6 separate regions of the Homo sapiens genome follow, and all the other regions are linked to region 3. Evidence: fine-mapped expression QTL. A gene starts in region 3. Each other region holds a variant in brackets. All regions are shown on one strand. Distances are between the middles of the regions. Region 1 overlaps WWC3 (WWC family member 3). Region 2 overlaps SHROOM2 (shroom family member 2). Region 3 holds the start of WWC3 (WWC family member 3). Region 4 has its middle 19 kb from the start of CLDN34. Region 5 has its middle 9.3 kb from the start of CLDN34. Region 6 overlaps WWC3 (WWC family member 3).

Evidence for each region.
Region 1: its variant is fine-mapped to the expression of WWC3 in whole blood (TOPMed, PIP above 0.99).
Region 2: its variant is fine-mapped to the expression of WWC3 in whole blood (TOPMed, PIP above 0.99).
Region 4: its variant is fine-mapped to the expression of WWC3 in whole blood (TOPMed, PIP above 0.99).
Region 5: its variant is fine-mapped to the expression of WWC3 in whole blood (TOPMed, PIP above 0.99). The same link has a PIP of 0.9 or more in monocytes.
Region 6: its variant is fine-mapped to the expression of WWC3 in cerebellum (GTEx, PIP above 0.99). The same link has a PIP of 0.9 or more in cerebellar hemisphere, cerebral cortex, esophagus muscle, gastroesophageal junction, prefrontal cortex and sigmoid colon.

The regions. Positions count from the first base shown.
Region 1 is chrX:10,096,580-10,101,686 of GRCh38, reverse strand. It overlaps WWC3 (WWC family member 3), which reads right to left. Exons shown (of 24, transcript NM_015691.5): 9 at 3,108-3,181. Among named protein-coding and RNA genes, the nearest start is that of CLCN4, 58 kb to the left of the region's middle. RefSeq lists an enhancer at 3,254-3,303. The variant T/A (reference allele first, on the strand shown) is at 2,778.
Region 2 is chrX:9,844,325-9,849,431 of GRCh38, reverse strand. The region is part of intron 1 of SHROOM2 (shroom family member 2); the gene reads right to left. Among named protein-coding and RNA genes, the nearest start is that of SHROOM2, 60 kb to the right of the region's middle. The variant A/G (reference allele first, on the strand shown) is at 2,540.
Region 3 is chrX:10,012,993-10,018,099 of GRCh38, reverse strand. WWC3 (WWC family member 3) reads right to left here and starts at 2,846. Exons shown (of 24, transcript NM_015691.5): 1 at 2,427-2,846; 2 at 2,242-2,424. The coding sequence starts at 2,521. RefSeq lists silencers at 2,874-2,933, 2,974-3,143 and enhancers at 2,964-3,847, 3,848-4,731.
Region 4 is chrX:9,984,088-9,989,194 of GRCh38, reverse strand. No RefSeq gene overlaps it. Among named protein-coding and RNA genes, the nearest start is that of CLDN34, 19 kb to the right of the region's middle. The variant G/C (reference allele first, on the strand shown) is at 2,355.
Region 5 is chrX:9,955,473-9,960,579 of GRCh38, reverse strand. No RefSeq gene overlaps it. Among named protein-coding and RNA genes, the nearest start is that of CLDN34, 9.3 kb to the left of the region's middle. The variant C/A (reference allele first, on the strand shown) is at 2,626.
Region 6 is chrX:10,105,858-10,110,601 of GRCh38, reverse strand. It overlaps WWC3 (WWC family member 3), which reads right to left. Exons shown (of 24, transcript NM_015691.5): 10 at 582-824. Among named protein-coding and RNA genes, the nearest start is that of CLCN4, 49 kb to the left of the region's middle. RefSeq lists enhancers at 1-465, 466-1,183. The variant G/A (reference allele first, on the strand shown) is at 1,857.

The DNA.
Region 1 (5,107 bases), 84 kb before region 3:
TTTCCCTTCTCAAGTCAAGGCGAGAGACCCCAAGGCTCACACCTGGATGGAGGTTTGAGGAAGGGACCCAGGAGCAGAGCAGTTGGCCTGGAGCTGACCTGGCCCCGGGACTGCCCTGGCTTGCCCCGTCCCAGGGGCAAAGGCCAAATAGCAAATGCAACCACACGGGACCCTCATTTACTCATTCAATAAATATTCACCAAGTATGTAGCTGCTGGGCTTACAGCAATGACCTACAATCCCTGCACTCATGAGGGTTATTTACATTTTCACAGGGAGAGACAGGCAGTAAGAAAAGTAAACACTGGTTAGGTAATAACATTTGCTCAGCCAATCAGGGGGACCGGGGTGAGGACAGGGTGGTGAGGTTTTATTCAGGATGGTCAAGGAAACCTCTCTTAACAAGGTGATCAAAAGGAGAGGTCATGTGACAATTTGGAGAAAAGCCACCCCATTCCAGACAGAGAAGACAGAACAGGCCAAGGGCACTGTATGAGTTTGCTCTTTTCTGCCCCAAATTACCACAAGCTTAATGGCTTAAAGCAACACCTATTATTCCCTTACAGTTCTAGAGGGCAGAAGTCGAAAATGGGTCTACAGGGCTGCGTTCTTTCTGGAGGTTCCAGGGGAAAATCTGTTTCTTTGCACCTTCCAGCTTCTAGGGGCTGCCCGTGCTCCTTGGCTCCTGGCCCCACACTATTCTGATCTCTGATTCCAACCTCACATCTCCTTCTCTACTGCCGACCGTCCTGTCTCTCTCTTATGAGGACTCTTGTGATGACACTGAGCCCACCTGGATCATATAGGCTCATTTCCCCATCATCTCAGGATCCCTAATTTAATTACATCCACGAAGTCCCTTTTGCCATGGAAAGCCACATCTTCACAGGCTGTGGAGATCAGGATGCAGACACCTTGACGGACCATCATTCTGCCAGCTGCAGATGCTAGGTCAGGAGTTGGCTCGGTGGGACTGAGGCCCGGTGGGAGGCCCGAGGGGCTGCTCAGTGCAGGCGTGCTTGTACATCTGAGGAACATCGAGGGGCCGATTGGCTGGAGCAGGGTGAGTGGGGAGCAGGCTGATGCCTGTGAGTCAGCAGGCGACCTGCTCATGTAGGCCCCTTGTTGTCCATGCATCGTGAAGATTCAGGAGCAAGACAGGAAGAAGCCCCAGGGCGAGGTTTCTGGACCTTGGCACCGCGGCCATGCTGAGCCGGGTAAGTCTTTGCTGCGGGGGCCATCCTGTACACAACAGGATGTCAAGCAGCCTCCCTGGCCCCTGCCCTAGAGTTGGGACACCTAAACATGTCTGCAGACACTGCTGGAGGTCTCCTGGAGGGTGAAGGCCTTGCTCCCTGTGTGGAGCCCCACTATGCTAGTGGGAAAAGGACAGGCAGCACCTGTGCAGGCCCACCCAGGTGGAGTTTAAAAGAAATCTCTGATTTTTAAATGCTCCAACACAGCCCACAGAGGCACTTCTGACATGCCGCTACTGTCAGTGGAAGGTGGACCTTCCTCTGTAGCTGTGGTGCGTTTCCTAACAAGGTTCTGGCCATCTTGAAATAATATGGTATTTTATTCAAAAGAACTGATGAAGTACCATGCCTGCCCCTTGAACAATTTTCTTAAATACTCGACTTTTCACCCAAATGTATTATCCCAACATTTAGAAGGTTACTCACCATATACTGGCACCATCTCTAGAAAACAAAGAAATCACTTGCTATGTTTGGTAAATGTCACAACCAAACACGTAACAATCATGTTCCTAAGTGTAGCAAATTCCAGCACCCACACTCCGCAGTTTCACCAGAAACAGGCAAGAGCAGACGAATACTCAGAAGAGACAATCGCTCCTCACAAACTCTTGCAGGCTACAGAGAAGGAATATGCATGATAATGAAGAATCACCACACAGACAACTGGTATTGCCAAATGAACTTGGCACTGTTCTGTGGGGAAATTTAAAGCCCACCACGAGTCCATCCTAAAAAGCCAAGAGGCACTGGTTAGAAAACCTCCTAGAAAACAGAAGGCCCATGTCCGTTTAAGTTGGCCCTGGAGCACTGAATCATATGATGTGCTTTTGTTGCTATTTTTACATTTTTTAAAAAGCCAACAAAGTAGCTTTCCAGACGTCCATGAATGGTACAGTGTGCTGAGCAGGCCTAACTGTTTAGCTTCCAGAAAGAACTCCCTCACCCCACCCGACATTCTGCTATTCTGCTCTCCCCGCCCCCCATGACAATATTTCATTTGTGACTCAAGTAACTTTTTAAAAAAGATATGCTTGATACTCTTCTGAAGCACTTATTTGGAAATAATTTGGCTTTAAGACTCTTTCCAGAAGGCACAAACTAGAGAAAGTCCCTAAAAAGAGAATACAAAAGTCAGAGAGGAGAAGAATATTGAAAACGGGAGCCCTGCACAGCTGAGGAGACACGTGACGCCCTAAAATACTATGCCATGCGAGGGTTCGGAAGCCTCTCAGCTTTGTGCATGTCAGAGGATGAAGACTGGAAGGGAGGGAGGGAAGTGAGGAAAGAGAAACACAAGTGCACAAAGTGGGTCAAGCTGCAATTTGCAGGAGGCCAATGGTTTACGACACAGGACAACATAAATGGAATGAAATCAATTAGGTACTGCTCACCTGTTGACCTAATGCTTATTGAATGTCTTATAACCAAGATACATGGCTTTGCCCATTAGCTTATGGAGTTAGAAGCCACACATATAAAAGATCAAGTGGTTTCACTTATGACACCCTCTGGAACTGA[T/A]GCTCGTCTATTGGAAGGAGGGAAGGGAAGGAGGGGTAGAGGTTCTGAACCACCGGGGATGACAAAGCCAAAAAAGTTTCTATTCTTATGGAATCACGTCTGTATAACTGTTTGTAATATTGCAAATTTCACATTTTAAATGCACTTGAAATGTTGTCATATGTATGTATTAAGCTACACGTAAATGAAGATCCTTGACTTGGTATTCTATCAAACGCTGTTCTCCGATGAGACGTGACCAATCACACACAGGAACTATGCCACGCTTCCTTCCACAGGAGAAAGTAAGTAAGTAAGCAGAAGGCGAGGTTGGAAAAAAGTGCTTCTTACCTCTTTCTGGCTTCTTCATATTGCCAATTAAGTCTGACTCGGTCTACAAGTCTTGTTTTATCATCAAAGACAAACTTTCCGGAACAGAAGAGAGAAAAAAAGAAAGGAAACGCATATTAAAAACATATTTCCAAAATAGCAACTTCACTTAAACTTTCGGCAGCAATGAGAAATATTCTTCATCTCTTTCACTTTCAATCTGTGCAAGGTCTGGAAGGAAACACTGAATAACCCTTTGCGGCCACCCCTGGCTGGGGAGGGGGGAGGGGGAAGGGAAGACTCTTGCTTGCCTAAACTGGTAGGGTTTTTTGTTTTTTTTTACAGCAGCAGCATATCTATCTATTCTGTAATTCCAAACAACAACCACAAATTAGGTTTTAAAAGAAGTAGGAAATTACTTAGTAAAAGTTGATACAAAGGCAAAAACCAGTCACCCGATTTTGTGCAGTACATTCTCTAATTCCTCAGTAAACGTAAAATAATGATGTTCTACTCAGAAGCTCCACGGTCTGAGGAAGCTGGACTAGCTGTGTGACGGATGGGCTGGTGGACGCCTTCTGATGCCACGAGGTGTGTTAAAGAACCAAGGGCAAGCCAGGCGCGGTGGCTCACGCCTGTAATCCCAGCACTTTGGGAGTCTGAGGCGGGCGGATTACGAGGTCAGGAGATCGAGACCATCCTGGCTAACACGGTGAAACCCCGCCTCTACTAAAAATACAAAAAATTAGTCGGGCGTAGTGGCAGGCGCCTGTAGTCGCAGCTACTCGGGAGGCTGAGGCAGGAGAATGGCATGAACCCAGGAGGCGGAGCTTGCAGTGAGCCGAGACTGAGCCACTGCACTTCAGCCTGGGCGACAGAGCAAGACTCCGTCTCAAAAAAAAAAAAAAAAAAAGAACCAAGGGCAAAAGGAAAGCAAGCAAGGTCTCAAAAAGCCAGAGCTCGGGGAGTACCAATATAGAGTTAGCCTAAATGCGGTGCTCTGTGACGAGTAGATATACTTAAATATTTTTGTACCAGTTACATTGATGACAATAAAATCCTACACAAAACAAAAAAAGACATGTACAGGAAGTAACTGTAGTACATTTTGGTTAATTCCTCATTCCTGCAAATATTCACACAACTCCAGTTTCAATAAATCAGCTCCATCTGTTGATCTGACCTTACTAGATCACATATTATGGCCACCAAGTCTTTACATTTTTGAAATAACTTCCCATCAACAAGTATCTGAAAATATTCAACTTGAATGATTAGCAGTGAATTTATCGACACGAGTTTTGATCTATGTTGATGAAAAATGTCTTCGCAAATTTATTGCCTTGAATGGCAAGATGAAAAAGTGCCTTACAAGGGACTGAGCATTCTCCAACCAGAATGACAATTGTTCATGGTTTCTTTTTTTGAGACAGGGTCTCGCACTATTGCTCAGACTAGAGTGCAGTGGCACAATCACAGCTCACTGCAGCCTCAACCCCTTGGGCTCAAGCGATCCTCCTGCCTCAGCCTCCCAAGTAGCTGGGACTACAGGCATGAGCCACCACGCCCAGGTGGTTGCCCAGCCATGTTGCCCAGACTGGTCTTCAACTCATGGGCTCAAGCAATCTGGCCACCTCTGGCCACCTCAGCCTCCCAAAGTGCTAGGATTACAAGCATGAGCCACTGTGCCTGGCCACAATTATACATGTTTAAACGGCCTCATCCAATGCTCCTCTCCAGCTTCCTCAGTATAAATATATTTAAGTGGCAGTGCCACAGCTCCAAAAGCTGTCCACAGTGGAGATGAGCTACTTGCCATTTCAGTCCCCTCTTTATTAGTGACCCTGCAATCAACTCATCAAGATCAGTAAACATCATCTCTCAAACCTCTTCTCAAAGCTGTATGCACCTCTCTCTAAGCTTTGTTTCTGTACTCTTCTTTGAGAATTAAATGGACATTTTAGTGAAAAGAAAAGACAGCCAAATGGATCCAAGAGACTCCTGCTTCAGAGTTCCTATGC
Region 2 (5,107 bases), 170 kb after region 3:
GTCCCACATGGGCAGCCTCTAAAATCAATCCCATGGAAAGGTTTGTTTCAGGGCGAACTGTGGGGAGGAGTCTGGGGAAGGAGGGCAGAATGTGCTGCAGAGGGAGGAGAGATCAACAGGAGGTGAAGCAGAGGTGGGAGTACACAGAAGCTCCCACATGGACTGCTCCTGCCAGCCGGCGCCTGCTGTCTCTCCTCCCAGCCTCTGTGCTGAGGCACAGAGATCCACGCTCCCATCTTCCTGGGTCCTTGGGTGCATCCAGGAGGGCTTGCAGCACTCCTACACCATCTGCCAAAGGAGGCCGCCCTGGGATGCTCCAGACTATAGATTCCCAGATAGGCCACAGCAAGGGAAGCAGGAGAGAAGCTCGGTTTCCGACACAGTGCCTTCCAGGAGACCCACGGGTGAGTCCAGCTGTACTGTTAACTCCTGGAGGATGCAAACGGTCGCTCTGGGGTGGGAATGTTTACCTGAGTGGACGGTTGTTTGCTCTGGCCCTTTAGGTGAACAAAGTGGATGAATGGAAGGGAATCCAGGCATCCCAGGAGTTCATAACACAATGTTCTTCACGGAGCGCTGCACTCACGCAGGGCACCAGCTGGTTCTCAGCACACGTTACTATTGAGAGCTTCCCCTAACCCTGGCAGATACACCTGCATGTCCCCATCTTGTCGATAAACTGATTCGGGAAGCTAAAAAATTGGCCAAAGGACAGACACTTTATTCGTCCCAGAGATATGAGGTAACATGCTTAGGGCTGCATGGCTCATTACCGGCAGAGCATAAATCAGCACATGATAAAGTCTCCTCCTAGTTCCTCTCCTCACATCCCCGTATAAAGAGAGTTTTATCTCTAGACATGTAGAACTTAAATACTTAGATACTTAGAACATGCTTTTCTTTTTTTTTTTTTTTTTTTTTGAGACGGAGTCTCGCTCTGTCGCCCAGGCCGGACTGCGGACTGCAGTGGCGCAATCTCGGCTCACTGCAAGCTCCGCTTCCCGGGTTCACGCCATTCTCCTGCCTCAGCCTCCCGAGTAGCTGGGACTACAGTCGCCCGCCACCGCGCCCGGCTAATTTTTTGTATTTTTAGTAGAGACGGGGTTTCACCTTGTTAGCCAGGATGGTCTCGATCTCCTGACCTCATGATCCACCCGCCTCGGCCTCCCAAAGTGCTGGGATTACAGGCGTGAGCCACCGCGCCCGGCCATGCTTTTCAATACATACCTGACTTGACTTCAGCAACATATCAATAGCCACAAGGGATACACAAATTCAGGTTCCTCGATGGCCTCAGTATACAGTGGGGAATCTGTAAACGTGGATCTGCAAATCTATGCAACATGTTTTGCCTGTTAATCCACACAACATTCGCCCTCAGACATGGGGAGTATTGACCTGCTGAGAATATAAGCTTTTCAGGTTGTTGGTAAACAGGCCCTGGAGTGCCATATCCATAATCTATTTCTCCATCTTCCCCTTCCCTGGGCATAGCAAGTGAGCAGCCACAGATGCAAAGGATGAAAGCAAAGAGAAACAATAAAAAAGTGATAACTTTGTTACAACACGAGTAAATCAGAGGGAAAAAATCACGAGAAAAGGACTGGCCAACACTGTAAGTGTCCAAGAGACTAGGGAATGTTGTGTAGAGCTGTTTCCACATGTAACTCAGCACAAGCATTTAGGCATTACCAGAATGCAGACTCCAAAAGTGCTAGTAAGGATAACAGCAATACGTAAAATAAGTCCTAGGTCTCATTCATATTTTAGGACTGGCCGAGGCTTACACTAGGACTTCTTAGGACAGGACACTTTATGCAACTGGCCGTTTTGCAAGCTATTCTCCCAATAAAAGTGTTTCCCTCATTCATTATTCCTCCAACCCCCTTTTCCCTCTGATTAGAGTTCAACTTATCCAGACATCCCCCTAACACTATGTCTCTTACATTCGTCGGAGCTGATAATCTGGAGAGTATGTTGACATTTTCCAGCCATATTTGGATTCGCACAGCTATTGTGACAACCACTAAAAGTCCTACCTTCCTTTGGTGTGCACTGCATTCCAACCCAGCACGGTTAGTCATTGCAAAAGACTGTTTATGACACAGCATTCTCATCCGTCAGGCACGGCCTGGTGCCGGAAAGGCCACTGTAGCAGTCACCCCTCTTGTAATAAAAACAAAATCCCCACCAATAAAAGGCCAATAGAGTTTGTGGTACAACAATTTTGAGGTTTAGTTCCTCTTCACTGGGGTTGAACATTATGAGACTGGTTTGCCGGCCTCATTCTAGAAAGAGGTTTGTCGGGTTTCATGGATACTGAGCTAACACCAAGACAAGCACGGAATAATAACAATGGCTAAAGGCTTTTGGAAACCAAAATGAGAAAACCAGCAGATCGAAGATGATATTCTGGTGGCTGAATTGTCCTTTCAAAAGGTGGGCTGTCTTAGAGCCCAGATTTCACCTATGAGACTCGTCTCAAACCTTCATAGCCATCAGAGCTGGTGGCAGCAGCCAGCATGCGTCCCCGTGCTCC[A/G]TGAAACAGCTGCAAAGGGACTGTGGGAAAACAAGGAATTCTCTGGAAGGCAGACGCCAACCACAGATCAGCCAAGCATGGGCTCAGAGGCGGCACAGATGCCAAATCCATGTTCAAAATGGCTCATCTCTGGGGAAAGATGAAAGAGACGATAGGAAGGTCTTAACCTTCCTTAGCCACTAAGAATTCTTTAGAAAAACACACAGACTGGAGGCAGTGGCTCATGCCTGAGGTCAGGAGTTCGAGAGCGGCCTGGGCAACATATCAAGACCCCATGTCTATAAAAGATAAAATAATTGGCCGGGTGTGATGGCTCATGCCTGTAATCCCAGCAGTTTGAGAGGCTGAGGCAGGCGGATCACGAGGTCAGGAGATTGAGACCATCCTGGCTAACACGGTGAAACGCCGTCTCTACTAAAAATACAAAAAAATTATCTGGGTGTGGTGGCACGTGCCTGTAGTCCCAGCTACTCAGGAGGCTGAGGCAGCAGAATCACTTGAACCCGGGAGGCGGAGGTTGCAGTGAGCTGAGATTGCACCACTGCACTCCAGCCTGGGTGACAGAGCGAGACTCCGTCTCAAAAATAATAATAATAAATAAAAGAATTAGCTGTGCGTGGTGGCATGCACCTGTGGTCCCAGCTACTCAGGAGGCTGAGGCAGGAGGATGGCTTGAGCCCAGGAGTTTGAGGCTACGGTGAGCCCTGATGGCACCACTGTACTCCAGCCTGGGCAACAGAGTGAGATCCTGTCTCAAAAACCAAAACCAAAACCAAACAAACTGAGGTTCACAGCAACAAAAATGAATAAACTACAACTGCCACCAGAAACAATATGAATGAATCTCACAAAAGTAATGTTGACTGAAAAAGCTAGACACAAAAGAGTCCATACTAGATGATGCTATTTATATAAAGGCCAAATAGAGGCTAACCTCATCTATAGTGTGGACATTCAAGACAGTCCTATATTTGGGGGGTTGGGGAGGCTCAAGGGCACCCCTGGGGAGCTAGAACATTCCTAAAACATAAATAGGAATGTTCCATCTCTTGATCTGGGTAGCGAGTTACATAGCTGTGTTCATTCCACAAAATGTAGAGGAAGGGGTTGCGACACTGCAGCTGCCAGGAATTATGTTTCTCAACTCATGAAGAGGGACTGTCTGCAGCAGACGGGGTGAGACCAGAGAGGAGCAGAGACGGACAGAAAGGAGGGTGACGGGAGCCAGTGTGGGCTGGTGTGCGCAGAGGTGAGGGCCAGGTCCTGGCTCTGAGTCCTTTGTCTCTGGAACTACCACTCCCCTCATCCTGCCCAAGTAGATACAATAAAAGCCTTTATTTGTTTTCCAGAAAAAACAAAAAGGTGGGTGGGGGTGGGTGACAAGGTGGGATGGGAGATGCTAGCTTGGAATGACTCCCCTGCCATTTCAAAAGTGAGCTGTTCCAGCAGGAAGCAGGGGGAGAAGTTATGGAGAACTGTGACCCCGGCTAACTGCTCAGGCTGGCTTCTTGTTCAGGTTTACTGGGTGGGTCTAAATCTCTCGAAAACATTCTTTAGCAACACAGCGCTTGCTAAACAACAGAGTCAGTGCCCCATAAACATGGGCCAAATGAGCCAGACTCCCTAACAAAGCAAAACAAAAACAAGAAAAAAGTCCTGGCAGTATACACTTCTGCAATAAAGTAAGGGTCGGCCAACTACAGCCTTTGGGCCAAACCTGGCCTGCCACCTGCTTGGTGAATAAAGGTTTAGTGGAACACAGCCACGACCTTCATGTATACACTGGCTGTGGCTGCTTCCTGCTACTGCAACAACCCTGAGGAGTCCCACAGAGAACAAGTGGCCCAAACAGAAAACATTTACGGGCTCCTAACAGAAGACACTTGCCAACTCCCACGCTAGAGAAATACTTTAACTTGCAAATCCAGCATCAGGAGATTGGAGGTGATGGTAGGCAACTGAGCAAGAGTGGGAGTTGAGAGGAACGCAGGAGCACACCAATTCGCCAAGAACTTTCAAACACTATTTTGAAATCTACCATTTTTTAAATTAATTAATTAATTTATTTATTTATTTTAAGATGGAGTTTCGCTCTTGTTGCCCAGGCTGGAGTGCAATGGCACGATCTCAGCTTGCTGCAACCTTTGCCTCCCGGGTTCAAGCCATTCTCCTTCCTCAGCCTCCCGAATAGCTGGGATTACAGGTACCCGCCACCACACCCAGCTAATTTTTTTATAATTTTAGTAGAGACAGGGTTTTATCATGTTGTCCAGGCTGGTCTCGAACTCCTGACCTCAGGTGATCTGCCCACCTTGGCCTCCCAAAGTGCTGGGATTACAGGCATGAGCCACTGCATCCGGCCTTAATTTTTTTATTTTTTTGAGACAGGGTCTTGCTCTGTGGACCAGGCTGGAGTGCAGTGGTGTGATCATGGCTCACTGCAGCCCCGACCTCCCAAGCTCTCAAGTGATCCTCCTGCCTCAGCCTCCCAAGCAGGGGATCACAGATGCACACCACCATGCCTGGCTAATTTTTAAATTTCTTGGAGAGATGCCGTCTCACTATGTT
Region 3 (5,107 bases):
ACCTATAAAACTCGGCCAGGTTCTGTTTTGAAAGAGGAAGAAGAATGACTATTACAGCCTTCAGCCGACTCCACTTAAATGTTTGTGGCTTGCTGAACATTCCATACATATTTCGGGCAAGGTATTATGGGAGCTGAAGTTCAAGCTGTCCCCTGCTGAATTTTCACTCACTATAAAAACAACGTCTCATAAAAGTACACACGTTTTTACTTTACAAAAAAAAGGTAAAATATCCACTTTTGTTGACTCAATTGACAATTTTAGCATCAGAACGGAGACTTTTTAAAAACCTTTAAGTGATTGTCTGAAAAGTAACAAATCGATTTCTGGAAAAAAGGAATATAGGAAATGTGTCTGAAATACATGGAAAACAAGATTCTCCAAGCTGATTTCTGTATGGTCCATTCACGTTTGTCACAGGTTACACCATTAAAAAGAAAATCCTCACATTGATATCTTTCAGCATGAATCTCCACTCCAATATAACCACAACTGTTTTATATTACCCTTGGAAAGTGAGCCTTAGCCTTTTCTAAGCAAAACACTATTTTAATTGGTTCATTTTCCAGTTGTTTGGGTTTTTAACATACATATGGTATAAAAGGGCACTGCATTCCAAGCAGTTCTACCAATTCCAGAACCATCCAAGGGTTGATCAAACAGCTGGGGCTCTAGCCTTTGGTTAAAATTATAACATGATCTCACCTGATTTTCAAAATAACTAGGCATCTTTTTAACCCATAAAATTGTACTAGGATTGATATAGGTTTCTGAGCCCAGAGGTTTGCAATGTTCAGCGAGAATGTTAGGGAATCACGATCTTTTTGTTTTGCTTTCTTTTGTTTTCCCCTGCTTGAACTCAGAGAAATCTTCAAACAATTCAGCAGCTTCTCTCCTCAAAAGTTTATTTTCAGACGCCAGTGCCATGCAGGCCGCCTTCCCTGTGCAGGTAGGAGGAAGCAGGCACAATGTCACCACACTGGGCCTTTGCAAGTCTTCAAATCACTGGGAAGCCTGTGGTGTTTCCTTTTTGGCACTCAGGCCCTGGAAGGAGAGTTGCTCTAGAGAGGACAAGACATCAGATAACCTGTGGAAACACTTGATGTCCACAGAAATCCCAATTCCACACAAAATACATCTCTGTAAAAGCAGTTGAACAATCGAAACCCGTAGACAATCGAGCAAAAAGTTAAGGAAGAGCTTCGTTACATGGAATTAATTAAATGAAATCTGATAGTGCTTTTACAAGAATCAGTTTTTACTTGATTGGGTTTTTATACGTGAATAAGACAGCTTTGTACCCCATGCATATCTTTCACAAAAAGGAAACTTAAAATACAATTCTTGTTTTTCGTTTATTCCAAAAGCATATGGGACTAATCATATTGCATTCTGGCTGCAGTACAGAAGGCTATTTCAAACAGTTTTAACTCACGAGTTTTAAGGCGCTAAAGAGCAACTAGAGTTTGGGAACAGACTTCTCCAACTCCAAAAGGGTTGGGAATCCCTCAAGGGCCCGTCTGACATCAGGTTTTGGATGGAAACCAGCCTGAACCCGCCAGACAGGGAACCCGCACCCCAAAGCTGGGGCGCACGTTTGTGATCCAAGGTGACAGCTCATCTCGCCACCGCGGGGCTGGGGACACCTGCAGAACCAGGGCCGGGGCAGTGGGCCGCAGACGCCCGGGACCGGGATGGGCGAGGCTGCCGCAGAGAAAGGAAAAGAGGGCCATCTGTCAGCCCCAGGAGAGGAAATTCCAGGAGCCCAGTTCCCAGGCGCCGGACAGCGGGTGACGTGAGGGAACCGAATGAGAGGGTCCGCCCAGCGGCGGGGGACCTGTAGGCGGCCGGCCTCGGCGCTCAGAGGGCTCGAGGCCTGGAGAAGGGGCACCTCCATTCTTGGTCAGAGCCCTGGGAGTCGGGGTATTGGGAGGGTGGATCCTCTCCCGGACCCCCGGAACCAAAGATCTTCACCCAGCCCCGAGGGCCTCCTGGTGTCTCCGATCCTCTCCCTGGGCCCAAGGGATGGGGGCGCCTCGATCGTAGCCTGGACCGGAGCACTCCAGGGAGTCCCCTGGTTCCGGGGATGGAGGCGCTCCGAGCTCTGCCCGGGCCCGGGGGCTCTCGGCGGCGGCCCCGCGCTGGGCGGGGCGTGTCCCCAGCGCATCCGCGGTGGCGCCGGCCGGCGGCCCGGGTCGTAGCGCCCGCGCCGGGTCTGGCGCCCCCAGCCGGCCCGCTTACCGGTCGCGGGGGTCGATCCACGACGTCTGGCGCGTGTTGTGGTCAATGTAAAAGACGCGACCGTCGTAGTCTCGCGCCTCCTCCCAGCCGGCGGGCAGCGGCAGCTCGGCGCTCTCCCGGGCCCGCGGCGGCGGCGCGGAAGGAGCTGGGGGCGTGGGGACCGCGGCGGGGGGCGCCGGCGGCGCGGTTCCCGCTGGGGCTGCGCAGAAGGCGGCGGCTCCCGCGGGGCCTCGCGCGGCTGTCCCCGCCGTCGCCGCCGGCCGCCGCTCAGCCAAGGCATGACGGCGCGGGCCCCGCCGCCGCCCGGCCGCCCCGCGCGCGCCGCCTCCTCCGCCAGCACTAAGGCCCGGCGCCCGGGGCGCGGGGGCGGCCGCGGGGAGCCGCCCGCCGCTCCTGGCGCATCCTCCGCCCGGCGCCCGTGCACCGGCGTCCGCCCGCCCGCCCTAGCAAGCCGCTGCCCGCGCCGCCCACTCCGTTCAGGTAGCCCGGGTGGCCGCCGCGCGCGAAGTCACAGCCCGGGAGCCGCCGCCGCCGCCGCCGCCGCTGCCGGCCGCCCCTCCGTTCCCGCGGCGCGCCCGGCCATCTTCGTTCCTCGGCGCGGCCCGGGCGAGCAGGGGCAGGGCGTTCGCAGGCCCCGCCTCCGGCCGTCCCGCCCCGTTCTCACCCAGGCCCCGCGGCTCCTCCCACGCCGGCGGCTCCACCCACGCCGGCTGCTCCTCCCGAATCTCCCACGGAGGCTCCCGCTCCTCCCGCCGCCTCTGCTTTTCCACCCACTCCCGCTGCTCCGCCTCCCCCGGCCCCGCGTCCTCCGCGCCTCTCCGTCGCCGGCTGCTCCGCCCCCAGTCTCCCTCGGGGTCCTCCTCGGCGCTCGGCTCCTCGACCCCACCCCCACCCCTCCGCTTGCTCCTCCCCCTCCGCCGTCCTCCCTCTCCGCGCGCTCCTCGCTCTCTCCCTCCCGCTCCGCCACCTTCCTCCGGCCTCGGGAAACCGCATGGAGGCCAGGATGGGCGCCGCCGCGTCAGTCCGCCCCCGGGCCCCCGCGTAGAGGAAGGCGGGCGGGGAGGACGACGCCCTACCCGGACTGCGGGCGCGGCCTGCCTGGGGTGACTCCTCGGGCGCAAACAATTCCCGAGAGAGCGGGCAGTGCCCTCCCTTCACCCGCTCCCGGGCTCTGGCTGTCTGGAGACCCTCTGCGCACTTGGCGGGAGGCTGCGCCCTCGGTCTCCCACACAACCCGTCTGGTCCCGCGAAGGTGGGAAAAGCCCCTGAAGGCGGGGCCGAGGGAGCTGAGGAGCTGGGGGAGCCCGCGGCCGGTCCTCTCGGGCGGCGCAGGGAGGACGCCTCTGGAAGCGGGCAGCTGGGCAGGTGGCCACTTTGCGTCCCCGCCAGGACAGCCCTAGAAGGGCTAACCTGGGGGCCCACACTAGGCGGGAGTTCCTTGACCTTCCCTGAGCGCTTCATCCGGTTTGTGGGGTCTGATCGTTTGAGCGGAGACCCAAGTAGACCATTGCTGGGGAGGAAGCCGGGTCAACTCCTAAAACTTTCAGCCTAGACGGGAACTTCTGTTTCACTGGCTCCCAGCTGGGGAAGCTGAAGCTCCAGAGTTGGGGCTGTGTCTTGCTCTAAATCTCCCACCTACTTCGTGCCCCAGACCCACAGCCGCAACACGTTATGCCAGGAAATGCAGGACAGTATCAGGGAGATTTTTAAACAGTTACAGTGATACAAAAATATCTGGTAGAGCCTGATTGAAATCCAGATACACAGGGGAAGAGACTGGAGGAAAATGTCCTGAAATGCTCACAAGAGTTTGCATTCCTTTGGCGGGATTTTTAAAAATGATTTGCCTTCCAATTTTTTGTAAAATGGTAATATTACTTTTATGAGGGGAAAGGTTGTTTTAAAAAAGAAGAATGGGCCGGGCGCGGTGGCTCACGCTTGTAATCCTAGCACTTTGGGAGGCCCAGGCGGGCGGATCACGAGGTCAGGAGTTCGAGACGAGCCTGGCCAGCATGGTGAAATCCCCGTCTCTACTAAAAATACAAAAATTAGCCGGGCATGGTGGCGCACGCCTGTAATCCCAGCTACTCGGGAGGCTGAGGCAGGAGAACTGCTTGAACCTGGGAGGTTGCAGTGAGCTGAGATCGCGCCACTGCACTCCAGCCTGGACGACAGAGTGAGACTCCATCTCAACAACAACAAAAAAAAAATTAGAAGAATGTGGGGCCGGGCTCGGTGGCTCACACCTTTAATCCCAACACTTTGGGAGGCTGAGGTGGGAGGATCACTTGAGCCAGGGAGGTCGAGGCTGCAGTGAGCCGTGTTTGCACGATTGCACTCCAGGCTGGGCGATGGAACAGAGACCCTGTCTCAAAAAAAAAAAAAAAAAAAAAAAAAGAAGAAGAAGAAGAAGAAGAATGTGAAGTTGTGAAGGTATAGCGACGTCCAAAAAACTATCCAAGGAAGGTCTTTCCTCTCCCTCCTCCTACTACAACACAGAAACTTTCTTGCTCCCCAAGTATCTATCTACCCCTACCTGAATGTTCTATGTGAGAAATTCCACCGCATGAGTCCTTTTAAACATGTGTGATTATTACATGTCCAAGGGAAAGAGTGGGAGGGTCAAAAAAGCACATATTTTGTGATGTCGCATGTGCCAGGGAATGCCCCAAGTGCTGAGTGTCCCTGCTCTGACATCTTCCCTTCCGATTGGCATGATTTATCGCCAGTGGGGCTGCCACTGCCTTCTTACCTTACCACCCAACATGGCCGTTCTGAAGCTGCATTTCCACCCTCCCTGTCACCTGGTCCTTTTAGAATCTCACAAATCTGGACACAAATCTATCACTCGAAAGTACTTTGAATG
Region 4 (5,107 bases), 29 kb after region 3:
TGCGATGCTTTTTGATAGCATTTTACTCACATTAGAACTTCTTTCAAAAGTAGAGTCAATCTTTTCAAGCCCTGTTACTGGTTTATCAACTAGGTTGACATAATATTCTAATCCTTTGTGCAAGTAACATGTCAAAATAAACACCTAGTCAATTAACAGCAGTAATGTTCAATGTCAGACCAAATACTGTGTTCTGAGACAATTTTTGCTATTTTGACGTGCTTATGCTGTCACCTGGTGGAGAAATGGAAGAATCCCACTAATTTATCAACTAAGTTTATGGAATATTCTAATCTTTTGTTGTCATTTCAATAATGTTCACAACATCTTCACCAGGAGGAGATTGTGTCTTAAGAAACTACTTTCTTTGCTCATCCATAAGAAGCAACTCCTGATCCAGGGACAATGGCTCACACCTGTAATTCCAACACTTTGGGAGGCCAAGGCAGGAAGGTCTCTTAAGCAGGAGTTCGAGACCAGCATGGACAACAAAGTGAGACCCCCATCTCTGCAAAAAAAAAAATAAACTATTAGCCGGGCATGGTGGCACATGACTGTAGTCTCAGCTACTCGGGAGGCTGAGGCTATAGTGAGCCGAGATCACACCACTGCACTCCAGCCTGGGTGACAGAGTGAGACCCTGTTTAAAAAAATTAAAATAAAAGTAGTACTTGGATATTGTTTTTAAAAAGAAAGAAAAAGCTCAATCAATGCATGGAGTATGAACAAGTAAATAAAAATCACCTATAATTTCATCATAGTTAACATTTTAGCCCATTTCCACCCCATCTTTATCCAGCTCATATTTTTCAAGCTGGAATCTTCTTTTATATGCATTTTGGTTTTTGTTGTTCTTTGCTCTGTATTTTTCCCATTTTATTATGAACCTTTTTTTTTTTTGAGACAGGGTCTCACTTTTTCACTCAGGCTGGAGTGAAGTGGCGTGATCATAGCTCCTTGCAGCCGTTAACTCCGGGGCTCAATAGACCCTCCTCCCTCAGCTTCTTGAGTATTTGGGACCACAGGCATGCAACACCACATCCAACTAATTTTTGTAAAAATTTTTAGTAGAAACAAGGTCTCCTTATGTTGCCCAGGCTGGTCTTGAACTCCTGGGCTCCATCGATCCTCCCGCCTCAGCCTCCCAAAGTGTTGGGATTACAGGCGTGAGCCACTGTGTCCAGCCAAAAACTTTCCCATATTAAACAAGGTTGAAAAAATTTTAGCGAACAACTCAAATACCACCCAGATTCTCTCATTAACATTCTACTGTATTTTCCTTTTTCTTTTTATTCATTTTTCTGCTCTGATAAGAGGCAGATTACTATAGTCTTTTTCATGTACCTATTCATTTGTTCATCCCTCTATCCATCCATCAATCCATCTTATTCTTTCATACATTTCATAGTAAATTGCAGACATCAGTACACATCCCCCTAAGTTTTCAGCAAGTATGCCACTAACTAGAGATTGATATGTGTTTACACTGGTTTTCTTTGGATATAAACTTTACACTTAATAAACTGTAACAATCTTAATACATGCAGGTTTTGCTCATTTTTTGCATTTGCCGATTTTCATAAACATTTTGCTTAGCATCACATTAAGCCAACAAATTAATCTCAGAAGGTGGAACAACTTTGCAAAATTTAATTTCCCCATCTGGGACTGGGGACATGTCTCCATGGCTTCTTTTGGCTCTTACTAAGGTTGAGCAGTTTGCAACATACAGGGTCTTGCACATTTCATATTAAGCTTATTGCTAGATATTTGGGAGTTTATTGCTTTTTTGTGTGAAAGTACTCTGTTTCAATTCTAATTTCAAACTGGCTCATTGTGTAGGAACACGAAAAGATTGTTGATGTTTGTGTATTTAGTATCCAGCTATATAATTGAACTTTCTGTTGTAGTGTAATAACTTTTCTTGGACTTTTTTTAGGTATAGGGTCAACTTAGCTGAACAAAGATTCACACACCCTTCTAGGATAATTATACCTCTTTTCTCTGTCTCCTGACTTACAGCACCCTGGCTAGAACTTCCAGAACAATCTAGCTGGGCGTGGTGGTGTACGCCTGTAATCCCAGCTATTCAGGAGGCTGAGGCAGGAGAATCGCTTGAACCTGGGAGGCAGAGGCTGCAGTGAGCCAAGATCACGCCATTGCATTCTAGCCTGGGCAACAGACTGAGACTCCGTCTCAAAAAAAAAAAAAAAAAAAAAAAAAAAAGGAACTTCCAGAGCAATCTTACGTAACTTTGGTAATGACAAGTTTTCAAGTCTGGTTCCCTATTTTCAGGGAATTCTTCTAATGTAGTGATTCACAAGTGTGGGAAGACCAGGGTCAGTGAAGGGGGT[G/C]CTTTGCTGGGGGGAGGGTGGATTTGAACAAGGCCCCACAGGCGATCCTGAAATGGCCCCCACCACTCCAAGGTTAGAAAAAACTGTACTAATCCTTCATCGTTAAAGATATATTTAAGTGTTCGTTTAAGATAGACAGCATTGAATGAAGTGTCTTTTGTTTTTTTAGTTTACAAAGGGTGCTTATCGGAAATTAATGTGGAACTCTCTCGCTCTTTCTCTCTTTATATATATATATATATATACCAGTTTTACTGAGGTATAATCCACATACTGTACAACTCGCCTGTGTAAAGCATACAATGCAGTGGTTTTTAGTACATTCACAAGGTTGTGCGACCATTGTCACCATCAATTTCAGAACATTTTTGTCCCTCCTAAAACGACCCCTGTGCCCATGAGCAGTCACTCCCCATTCCCCTCTTCCCAGCCCCTGCCCACCATTCATCTACTTTCTGTTTCTATGAATTTCTCTACTCTGGACATTTCATATAAATGGAATTGTACAATTTGTGGCCTTTTGTGTCTGACTTTTTTCACTCGACATCATGTTTTCAAGGTTCATCCACATCGTGTTTGCAAGGTAGTGGTAGGAAAACAAAAGCTGTTTCCCGATTTCTTCCCACCAAGTTCAGCTGTTTCAATGATCCTATGACGAAGATTGTGCCACAAGGAATAGCCTTGTGGATGTGACAGTTACCATCCACGGGCCCACTGTGTCCTAGTGGAACTCCATTCAGAGCCTGGGTTTGATGACCTTATGGGATTTCTTCTGGACCTTTCAGTGAGGACTCTATCACTACACGGTCCGTCGCATCTGGCTTACTCACAGCTACCCAAACCCCACCTCGGCTGTAGTAGCCAGGAAGTTGAAGGCCTGAAGTGCATTTACCAGCCAAGGTTTCAGCATCTCGTCACACACTGCCTCAGTAGCTTACGAACAACATGAGAGGCCTCCGTGAGCACGGGAAGTTGCCCAACGGAGAAGTGCAGGTGTCCCCTCCGGTCACCGCATTTGCTTGTCCTCTGTTTCCCAGTAACCCCCACATCCCGGCACTGCTGCCCCTCCATCTCTCTTCCTCTCTCCCCACGGCTCTGCCATGCCCCTGATTTGGGCCATCACCACCTCTCCTTGGAATTGCTGTCCCACCTGTCACCAGCCTCTGCCTCCAGCTTGGCAAGGCTGCCTGACAAGAATGACCGCCAAGGCCTCTGGTGCCTGATCCAATCTTGCCCACCTCTTGAGGCCAGATTCCTTCCAGGTTAATGGGGGCAGAAAGAGAACTGTGAGCTCCCGTCTGTGGGGATCTCACTCATGCACAGGTTGAGAGCCAGAGTGGCATTCATGAGCAGAAACTTCTTTTCCTGGTGTAGGTCTGTGAACAATCCCTCAGGGCACTTTCATCAACATGTCATCGTCACCAGAATCCATAGTTGACATTAGGGTTCATCCTTGGTGTTGTACATTCTATGGATTTGGACAAACGTACAATGATATGTGTTCATCATTATGGTAGCATACAGATAGTTTCACTGCCCTAAAAATCCTCTGCAATCCCCTCTTCATCTTTCCTTCTTCTCTAGCCCCTGGAAACCACCGATTGTTTTACTGTCTCCATAGTTTTGCCGTTTCCAGAGGGTCACACTGTTGAACTCTTACCGTCCGTAGCCTTTCAGATGGGCTTCTTTCACTGGGAAATATGCATTTAGGGTTCCTCCATGTCTTGTCATGGCTTGATAGCTCATTTCTTTTTGTGCTGAAAAATATCCAATTGTCTTAATGTATCACATTGTTTATCCACTCATCTACCAAAGGACATCTTTGTTACTTCCAAGTTTTGGCAATTATGAGTAAAGCTGCTATAATCATCTGTGCGCAGGTTTTTCTGTGGACGTGAATTCTCAGCTCATTTGGATAAAAACCAAGGAACACAATTGTGGGATCATAAGGGTCTGTCTCTTCTAATTCAAAATGATCCCAATCTCTGGTTTTAATGGAAGGTGTGGGTAATTAATTAGATGTTTTCTCTGAAGGTAGGTTTAGGAATGATGGAACCAGATACAGATACCAAACCCTGGAAGAGACAATACTAAAGAGAATTTAAAATAATTAAAAGTGAAGAAATACTCTTTTTAAAAACTTGATCAGGCCAGGCGCAGTGGCTCATGCCTGTAATCCCAGCACTTTGGGAGGCCGAGGCAGGCGGATCACCTGAGGTCAGAAGTTCAAGACCAGCCTGGCCAACATGGCTGAACCCAATCTCTATTAAAAATACAAAAAATAGCCGGGTGTGGTGGTGTGTGCCTGTAATCCAAGCTATTCGGGAGGCTGAGGCAGGGAGAGTTGCTTGAACCCAGGAGGCAGAGATTGCAGTGAGCCGAGATGGCACCACTGCAATCCAGCCTGGGTGACAGAGCGAGACTCTGTCTCAAAGAAAAAAAGAAAAGGAAAAAAAAAAACAAACCGTGATAGATGACTCTAATGTCTAATAACTCCGTATCCCAAACTGTTTACCTTTTGGAAATAAAATTGCTAAAATGCATGCCTTTTATAACCAGCAAGAATTCTCCCAAGCCTGCATACCTGTCTCAATCTGCTGGTTCTCCCACCTGGCTCTGTATTGGCAGCAGGTTTTCTATTGGGCCTATTTTGATGGTAGGTATTCATCTGCGTTAGTTAAGGGTGAACAATAGCAGCCCAGTTACCAAGTAACCCGATTTAATAAGCAGCTGCATTCTGGTTGGTTGACAAA
Region 5 (5,107 bases), 58 kb after region 3:
GCTCAAGAGATCCTCCCTCTTCAGCCTCTCAAGTAGCTGGGACCACAGGCACGCACTACCATGCCTGGTTAATTTTTGTATTTTTTGTAGAGATGGAGTCTCGCTTTGTTGTCCAAGCTGGTCTTCAACTCCTGGACTCGGGCGATCTGCCTGTCTCACCCTCCCAAAATGTTGGGATCACAGGAGCGAGCCACCGCGCCAGCTGGGAAAGACACTGTTAGTTCATGGGAAATGACCTTTTTCTAGCTAAGTCTTGAATTACAGGCTTGTTGGAACAGTTTCGGTAGGTAAGACAAGTGGAAGATGCGGAGTGTGTGAAACTGACCTGCTAAGACTGGGGACAGCTTCAAATGGAACCTGTGTAAGAAATGAGGCTGCCAAAAGGCAAACGATGCCAGCTACCCAGTATGTAGGACTAAACATTACATGGAAGTCAAAATCCCACCGGACTCCTTTGCTTACAGGGTTTCCATAAGAAGGAATTTATTCTGAGCAAATGAGCAGAGATGTGTGCAAAGATCTAAGTGCAAAGCACACCCAATGAACTCTGTAACTGAGGTTACAACTGGGACAAAAAGGCAAAATCCTAAAACCACACTTAGAGAACTGTTCAGTAAACCATTTTATATCCTTATAATGGGATATCACACCAAAATTCAATACTATGTTGAAGAATAATTAAGGAAAACGTTCCCAATACTGCTAAGTAAAAAGCAGATTTCGAAAATATTATTATATAATCCTGTTTCCTTAAAAAAAGCAAAAGGAAAAAGGAGACAGGGAGGGAGGAAAAGAATGGAGGGAGGGAGGAAGGGAAAGAGGGAGAGAAAGACGGAGGGAAGGAGAGAGTGAGGGGAGGAATGGGGGAAGGAAGGAAGGAAGGTGGGAAGGAGGGAGGGCAGGAAGGAAGGAAGGGGGTACGTGGCTATGTTGCCTTCCATGGCAAAACAGGCTTTGCAGCTGTGATGGAATCGAGGATCCAGATGTGGGGAGATGATCCCGGCTTATCCAGGTGGGCTAGTGTCATCACAAGGGTTCTTGTGTGAGGGAGGCAAGAGGGTCAGGGAGGGAAATGAGATGATAGAAGGAGGGTCAGGGAGAGACTGGAAGACGCTAGACTGCTGGCTTTGCGGATGGAGGAAGGGGTCGTGAGACCAGAAATGGGGTGGCCTCCAGATACTAGACAGGCAAGAAACCAATTCTCCCTGGAGCTTCCAGAAAGGAACACAGCTCTGCTCACACCTTGACTTTAGCTTGGCGTGACAGATTACAGACTTCTGACCTTCACAACTGTAATGCGTAAATGTGGCATTTTAAACCACTAAGTTTGTGGTAAATTGTTACAGCACCAATAGGACACTAACACACTGCCTATGTCTGGCTGGAGAATTCTTTTATTTTTTATTTTTGAGAGAGTTTTGCTCTTGTTGCCCAGGCTGGAGTGCAGTGGTGCAATCTCGGCTCACTGCAACCTCCACCTCCCGGGTTCAAGCGATTCTCCTGCCTCAGCCTCCCGAGTAGCTGGGATTACAGGCGCCCGCCTCCACGTCCAGCTAATTTTTTGTATGTTTAGTAGAGACGGGGTTTCACCATGTTGGCCAGGCTGGTCTCAGACTCCTGACTGGCTGGGGAATTCTATGTGATCTCTTTTGTTCTTCAGTGTCCTACAATGTGACAAGTTTATGTGCTTTTCTGCACTATTGGTTATCTTTTTTAAAAAAAAAAAAAAGCAATGCACACATGCATTTAACTACACCCTCTCCTCAAAGCCCACTAAAATGACAGAAACAGCTTAAAAGAGGCATTAACCCTCAGAGAACACAGCAGATGATTTACCAAAAAGATCCTGGTAGCAGGAAAGGTGATAGACAAATGCCAACTGGCTGGGTAGACCAGAAGGCTGAGATGCAGACCTGCCAGGAGCAAGACTCTTTGTGGTACCAGGTGCTTCTGCAGGGAGTGGGGTGTCGGCGGGGGAAGTACGGGGGACTGTCAGTAGAAATAGTGCCTGAGAATCTATATCCGATGCCCCCAATTACCCCCTTCACCGCCGCCGCCCATAATCACCAGACCACCAGTCCCCTTCTGTGGCAGAAGGCAGGAGGGCCAATCTGAACTTGGAGGGAGGTAGCTGTACAGTCTTGCTCCCACTGGGCTCCAAGTGTTTGATGAACTCCAAGTGTTGTCATATAACAGATTTTCATGTGGAGAGCAGAAATAGCCACTTCCTTTTTTTTTTTTTTTTTACAGTATTTGGAGAATTTATTTTTCTTTTTTGAGACAGGGTCTACTCTGTCGCTCAGGTTGGAGTGTAGTAGTGTGATCATGGCTCATTGCAGCCTCCAATTCCTGGGCTCCAGTGATCCTCCTGCCTCAGTCTCCCTAGTAGCTGGGAACACTGGCACATTTCACTACACCCAGGTAATTTTTTTTTTTTTTTGTAGAGACGGGGTCTCCCTATGTCTTCCAGGCTGGTCTTGAACTCCTGGGCTGAAGCGATCCTGTCACCTCGGCCTCCCAAAGTGCTGGGATTCCAGGTGTGTGCCCCCGCGCCCAGGCAGGTCTGCTATTTTAATATTTGTTTTGTTTCTTCTGGTTGTTGTTGTTGCGGCTTCCCTTCTACTG[C/A]CCTCTTTTGGGCTATCTGAGCAAGGTCGAAAGTTATCTATTGAGTTGTCTGAATCTCTTTGTACAGTTTTTAAGTGCTTGTTCTAGAGATGACAATACACAGGCATTTCATTGCCTATTTTGAAAAAACTATTTATTTATTTATTTATTTATTTATGACAGGGCGTGGTTCTGCCGCCCAGGCTGGAGTGCAGTGGCACAATCTCAGCTCACTGCAACCTCTGTCTCCTGTGCTCAAGTGATCCTCCCACCTCAGCCTCCCCAGTAGCTGGGACTACAGGTGCAGGTCACCATGCCTGGCTGATTTTTTTGTATTTTTAGTAGAGATGGGGTTTTGTCATGCTGCCAGGATGGTCTTGAACTCCTGGGCTCAAGCGATCCTCCTGCCTTGGCGTCCCAAAGTGCTGGGATCACAGGCGTGAGCAACTGTGCCCGGTCCATAGCCTATTCAGAATTAATATTTCATTACTTCCAGAGGAATGTAGCAACTTTACCACTAGGTGTGTCCTTTTCCTTGCAACCTTTAGGTTATAGCTGTCATATACATTAAGATCTACATCTCTCCCTTCTAATTCATAAATACCATTTTGGTTTCTTTTTCAATCAAACTTAGAAAAACATTGAAGAAGCCAGGTGCGGTGGCTCACGCCTGTAATCCCAGCACTTTGGGAGGCCGAGGTGGGTGGATCACCTGAGGTCAGGAGTTCGAGACCAGCCTGGCCAACATGGTGAAGCCCCATCTCTACTAAAAATACAAAATTAGCCGGGCCTGGTGGCACAGCTACTCGGGAGGCTGAGGCAGGAGAATCACTTGAACCGAGGAGGCGGAGGTTGGAGTGAGCCAAGATCGCGCCATTGTACCCTAGCCTGGGCAACAAGAGCAAAACTCCTTCTCAAAAATAAGAAAAAAAAATTGAACATGCTTTTCTTATATATGCTAAAAAGTTGACAACTGTTATGGACTGAATGTTTGCCCCCCTTATCCCCTAACTAGATGTTGAAATCCTAACCCCAGTGTGCTGGTATTAGGAGGTGGGATCTTTGGGAGGTAATCAGGTCATGGGGGCAGAACTCCCCATGAATGGGATTAGCGCCCTTATAAGAAGAGGCCTGAGAGCTACTTTGCTCTCTTTCCACCATGTGAGGATACAACCAGGCCAACAACCCGGTTCTCACCAGAACCTGACCACAGGGGCACCCTGATCTTGGATTTCCAGCCTCCAGAACTGTGAGAAATCAATTTCTGTGTTGTTTATGATTCACTCAGTCTATGGTACTTTGTTATAGAAGCCTGAACGGATTAAGACAACATGTAATATTTGCTAATAGTTTGAGTCCTTTGAATCAATTTAAGAAGAAAGGCTCATGCCAGTAATAGTTTAAAAAGTACTCTAATTCCAAATATCCGTTCTACAGGCGATAGTTTAAGACTGAAAATTCTGCACGAGCAGAATAATGTAAACAAAATATTCACACTCAGGGTTTTTCGTATTTGAAACTCTCCCTGCATGCTATATTCTTTTTTTTCTTCTTCCTTTGATTAGAATGGGCCACAAAAAATAAATAAATAGGGCCGGGCGCGGCGGCTCACACCTATAATCCCAGCACTTTGGGAGGCTGAGGTGGGCAGATCACAAGGTCAGGAGATTGAGACCATCCTGGCTAACATGGTGAAACCCCGTTTCTACTAAAAATACAAAAATTAGCTGGGCGTGGTGGCACGTGCCTGTAATCCCAGCTACTCAGGAGGCTGAGGCAGGAGAATCACTTGAACCTGGGAGGCGGAGGTTGCAGTGAGCCAAGATCGCACCATTGCACTCCAGTCCGGGTGACAGAGCAAGACTCCATCTCAAAAATAATAATAATAATAATAACAACAATAATAATGATTAAATTAAAAAAAATAAATAACAAAAAAAGGGTAACACATCTCCCCAGTTTTGTTCATAGGCCAGTATTTATATATGATCGGATATGAACAAGGACGTCAGTCTTCTGGTAGAATGTTTAGCTGTTTAAGTATATCCAGTTGAGTAATCAAATGTCATTGGTATAAAAATAAATTCCTCTCTGAAGAAAAAGTTTAAAGTTTAGAACTTAGGAAATGCCAGAGAAAACAAAGAATTTTTAGAAACATTTTTTCCTACATATTCTTGAGCTCTCTTTAAATGCCTACATAATGAGCTGTAATAGAGCAAAAATGTCTAAAAATTCCTTCACAGGACGTGTTTGCTCTAAATCAACTCACTATTGAGATAGGGCAGCTGGATGTACTTGTGTCAAGTCAGTGGAGAAACACTCCAGGCTTACGATGGAGTCGCCACCACCAGGCTGGGGATCTCGATGTGTACATCTTAATCTCTGGATCCTTTCGACACCCAGTTCTCATTCGCTTAACTTTCCCTTTTCAAAAGCAAAATTAATATGTAGGCTGGGCAGGGTGGCTCACACCTGTAATCCCAGTACTTTGGGAGGGTCGTTT
Region 6 (4,744 bases), 93 kb before region 3:
AAGGCTGAACGACTCAGTGCCACCGAATACCAAAGCCACTATGCTGGCTTTGCATGTCCTGCGTGGTGAAGGAGCCTCAGGACAGACGCACGACAGGTGGCCAGCTTCCCAATGCCAGAGAAGAGCAGGCTCTCCTGGCTAGAAATCAAAGTTGGAGAGGAAAGCAGTAGGTGGATACCCACCATGCTCACCACGTCAGGAACAGGGAATTCTTCCCCCATGCAACAGAGCTGCCCGGGCCGGAGCGGGACCACAGCCTGCTCAGGGCACTGTCCCACAAAGGCAGGTGGAAGCACCAAGCACCAACTTCAGGAAGGGTGGGGCGTGGGCGGAGATGGAGGTCACCCATCTTCCCTCACTCCTTCCCCCTTGTCAATCACCTCCTGCTTCGGAGCAGAGGCTCCAGAGACCCAGGGAGCAGAAGGCAGTGCCCCCCACCGCATGCCCCTCCTAGGCCAGGGAACATCCAGGCAGGAGAGGCTCTGAGTGATCATCAGGAACACCCTCCAGCCACACACAAGCCACCCCGTGGAGTTTTTCCAGCAGGCTTTCCGCTGGAGGTCGTGTCCCCGCTGACCCACCTCTCCGTGGCGCCCTGTGCGGAGGTGGCCCGTGCACGCCGCAGCTCCTCCTCTAGGCGCTCCCGCTCCTCCTCCAGCCGGGCCACATCTCCCGCAGAGCGGCGCTGTGCAATGATGAGCTGAAGCTCCTGCAGCAGGGCCTCCTTCTCCTTGATGAGCTGCAGCCGGTCCCTGTCAGCCTCGGCCGTGCTTGGCCAGGACTCATTGTCAAGCCGGGCCAGCTGCTGCTGGATGTTGGCGACTCTGCAAGAGAGACGGGGAGGAAAAAAGGACATCGGCGGACTGAAAACGCCGTCTTCACACCTTCTCCACGTCTCACACTGATTCTATAAACTCCTTTTGCCAAATAAGTAGTGAAATGATTACACCAAGTGACCCTTACACTTAAAAGGATATGGAAACAATGTCCTAAAAAATGGTGCAGAAGTCTTTTCCTGAAGCTCCCTTAGCCTGAGATTCGAGATGAAAATAACCCCATCGTGCCTGTTCCGAAGAACTGACAAAAAGGCCAGCAGCCCTCAACATGCCCATACTCGGCGGCTCAGACTCCTGGTTTCCTACATGAAACTGTCCCAGAGCAGGAGGGAGTCTGCTTGTTTCTTCTGCCCACCCTCATCAGTAGCTAAACAGCATGCTGGACCCCCAGAAGTGCTGCCGGCCTCCCGCCTCCTCAGCTGTGTCTAACCACTGTCAGCCGCTTTAGCAAAATAACAAAGGAGAAATGCACTCATCATCTGGCGTCCTGAAGGAAAGACCTTCGAAGCCCCATGCTCCGCGTCTTCTGGTTCTGTGTGCTCCTTCCTGCACCAGAGCCCCTGGCCATACATGAATTCAAAACACCTTGCGGAGAGCAAGTGGGCACTCGACAAAAGCTGAGTGCATTGAACAGTGAACAAACACGCCTGCAAATATGTGAGAGGAAGAGAGGCAGCCCTGTGAGCATGGATGCTGGTGAGAGATGATCTGGGTGGATGCAAAGCGCAACAATCCTCAAGGTGGAAAAACAGAGGCTCCTATCAGTTTCCATGCCTCGAAATTTCCAAGTGCTTGCTTGGCAAACAGACTGCATTACTTTTTGTGTCATGAGGTGCTGTTGAATGCAGATTAAGTGAAACAGATGTGGCCTGTATTTTTAAAGCATCCTTTAAAAGTAAGAGTAGAATGTTTTAAGCCCTTTAAGTAGGGTTAAAGATCAGGGATATGTTTCTAGGGAGAAACTAGGAATGGCAAACTCAACCTGAACCCCATGCTGTGGAGGACATAGTTGGCATACTC[G/A]CCCAAAAACAAAATCCAGAGGCTTCTCTGAGATCACAAAGAGCTGTGAGAACAGGGAAGTGGCAGGCACACGTGGCCCTATATCCTCCGAGGGAGATGCAGGGCAGAGGTGCTCCTGAGACTGCCTCCTCCTGTGCCCGCGGTCCACGGCACTAACCAAGGCTGGCTTCCCACCTGCTGGGTCTAGACCTCAGAAGCCTTCTCTACACTATGAGCCATGTGGATATCCCCAATTGACTAGCATTGCCACACATGTTAAAACCTGCCACCCAGCCTTGTGCCAAGTCAGGCTCCACCTAAACTAGACACGAGCACATGGACTCATGAGGATCGGGCATGACTCCCTCTCTAGCCACCAAACGAATCTGAAAGCCCACAGTTAAGGAAAGAAACGGGTACACAAGTTACAGTTTAAATGTATGCATTTTACTCAAGTCCACTTCAACAAGGTAAAGACACTAGTTGAATGTCAGTAGCTTTATTAGACAAGTTATTTTCTAACTTAAAACTAATGTCTGGAAAACGTGTTGGAAGATGGTGCCAAACCATGTCACCAGAAAAACTAATGACAGAGGCAGCTGAACAGGGCTAGGACTCCAACTGGGCTTAAGCATCCACCTACGTCTAATTAGTGTAATTAAAATTTATGGCAGTCATATATCCAAAGCCCAAGGAAAATACACTCCAAGCAAACCCACAAATAAGTCAGTGCTAAATCAGACATTATACCCAATGACATTTCTGGAACATTCTACAGTAGACCAAGACAAGTTAAGAAATAAATATAAAAGATGAAGAACAATCAGCAAATCTGTGTCCTCATACTTTTTTTCATTTCCATTTATCTGATCCACAGGAAAGTCTGAGCCCAGCTAAATTTTGCCCGACCATTTTATACTCATACTAATTACCATACATATAATATAAACAGAAGTATTTTACAGAACACTCCTTTTGAGTTTTCTGAGCCTTAAATATGAAGAGATCAAGATTCCATTTGAGTCTGCCAGCTCTAGGTTAGCTGCTAGCCTACAAGGATTCAAGCTGTTGAAGGTGGCGGAAGATCCAATTCCAGATAATCACAACCTTTCCAGGAAAATCTCAAGTAATATGCACTGTCAGGAAAAAAAGAATGAGGAAAAAAATGAATTATAGGAGGGAGGAGAGGCAAAGGGTGAGTTTCAAAAGACCTGTCTGCTGCAGGCATAAAGAAACAGAACAGCAGCCCAAATTAAACCATGTCCTGTCACTTCCCACAGCTGGCAGGAAAAATATGCAAGGACAAACGGCAAGGGACGACCTCTCCAGCAGAAACAAAATCTGCAACCCATCTGGAAATGTTTGGGCTGTGCTGAATGCTAGGCAAACATTTCTGTGCCTTCCAATTGTGGGGTTTAATAATAAAATTTCAAAACAATGCAACAATGCAAACAATCTCATCTTCATTTCAGAGCTATATATGAATCTAGAAGAAACTGGAACATATTGAAAAGTTCAATTTCTTTCTTTGTCCCCATGTTCTAGGTGTGAACATTTGGGGCCTGCTTCAGCAAGGTCGAGAGAGGCACATCTGTCTGTCTGTCTGTACTGGAAGCCAAAAGCACTAGGATTCCTTCAACAATCGATTGTTCTTATGTCCCCATGAGACAGACAAGACGGCTTTGCCTTTAAAACCGTATGACTTGTCTACCTTGCCGTGGGCCGGAAACGAGCCATCTGCAGGGAGTATCTTTAGTACGTTAGGTTTACTTGAAGAAACAGACTTCCTGCCTAAGGCTAAACACAGATGTACTGAGTTTCAATGCACCTTCTTCTACATCCACGCCAAACAGCTGATCCACTGGTTGGAGCCTCGCTCCTGTGAGTGCTGTTGTTCCAATTTTGGGTATTAAAGGAAAAACAATTTCCAGAAAGGCTTTTCTTTGAAATATCATTTCAGTGAAATTAAATACATGGAAGTAAAGCAAGGTCATGGTTAAAGTTTGCAAAACAAAATAACTTTCCCGAGTTTTTTGTAAAGAGAACTAATAGCAGCTTAAAATTAGAGAGGATTTTTTTTTTTTTCTGTGAGCCAACTATATTCTTCAGTGATTTTTATTTTTGAGGGGTAATGCATTTTATGGCCTATATAAAATCTCTCCCAAATGCCTTTAAAAGCCTTAAAATATATGCCCCCGTGTCCTGATAGTGAAGAAAGCAAATGTTCAATCAAGCATGCAGGTTTCTTATTTATTATGTGTTTCCCAAATTCTATTCCCTGAGCAGGTCTAATGTAGACAGACATAAAATATGAATCATTTTTCCCTTATGATTTTTGCTCAAACACTTTTCTGTTACAACCCAGGCACCATTAAACCATGCATTTATGCCGCAGAAACTATTTAGACTCTCACAATTCACATGAAAATCTTAAATACGATTTGCATTTTTATAGGAAAACAATGCACTTTCAATAATAAAAAGTTCTGAGGCATATCAAGAATAATCCCTAATTATTTGAATTTATACCAAAAATCTGCAGTCTACAATATCATTTCTCATGGTCCTAAAATCCTGCTGCTTTCTGGAATAGCAAGCAGAACTCTGGACAGCCCACGGTCCTATCCCATGGTGATGAGTCGTGAGGGATCCCAATGGCACATTCCAGGACGCGGGGTCAGCTTAGAGCCTCATACCTTCAGATTGCAATTACGGCTACAGGTTCGATACTCCTTACATTTTCTCTTAGTTTTCTTGTTGTAAATACCCATTTAAATAAAAAGCAAAGGTTAAAGAAAACAGCTGAGATGTAAGTCAGATGGACAATGAAATCACTTCAGCTGATTGAACTAAACCAGCGTCCATTCTACTCAACTCTTTATGTCAGAAGTTTGAGAAGTCTGAATCTA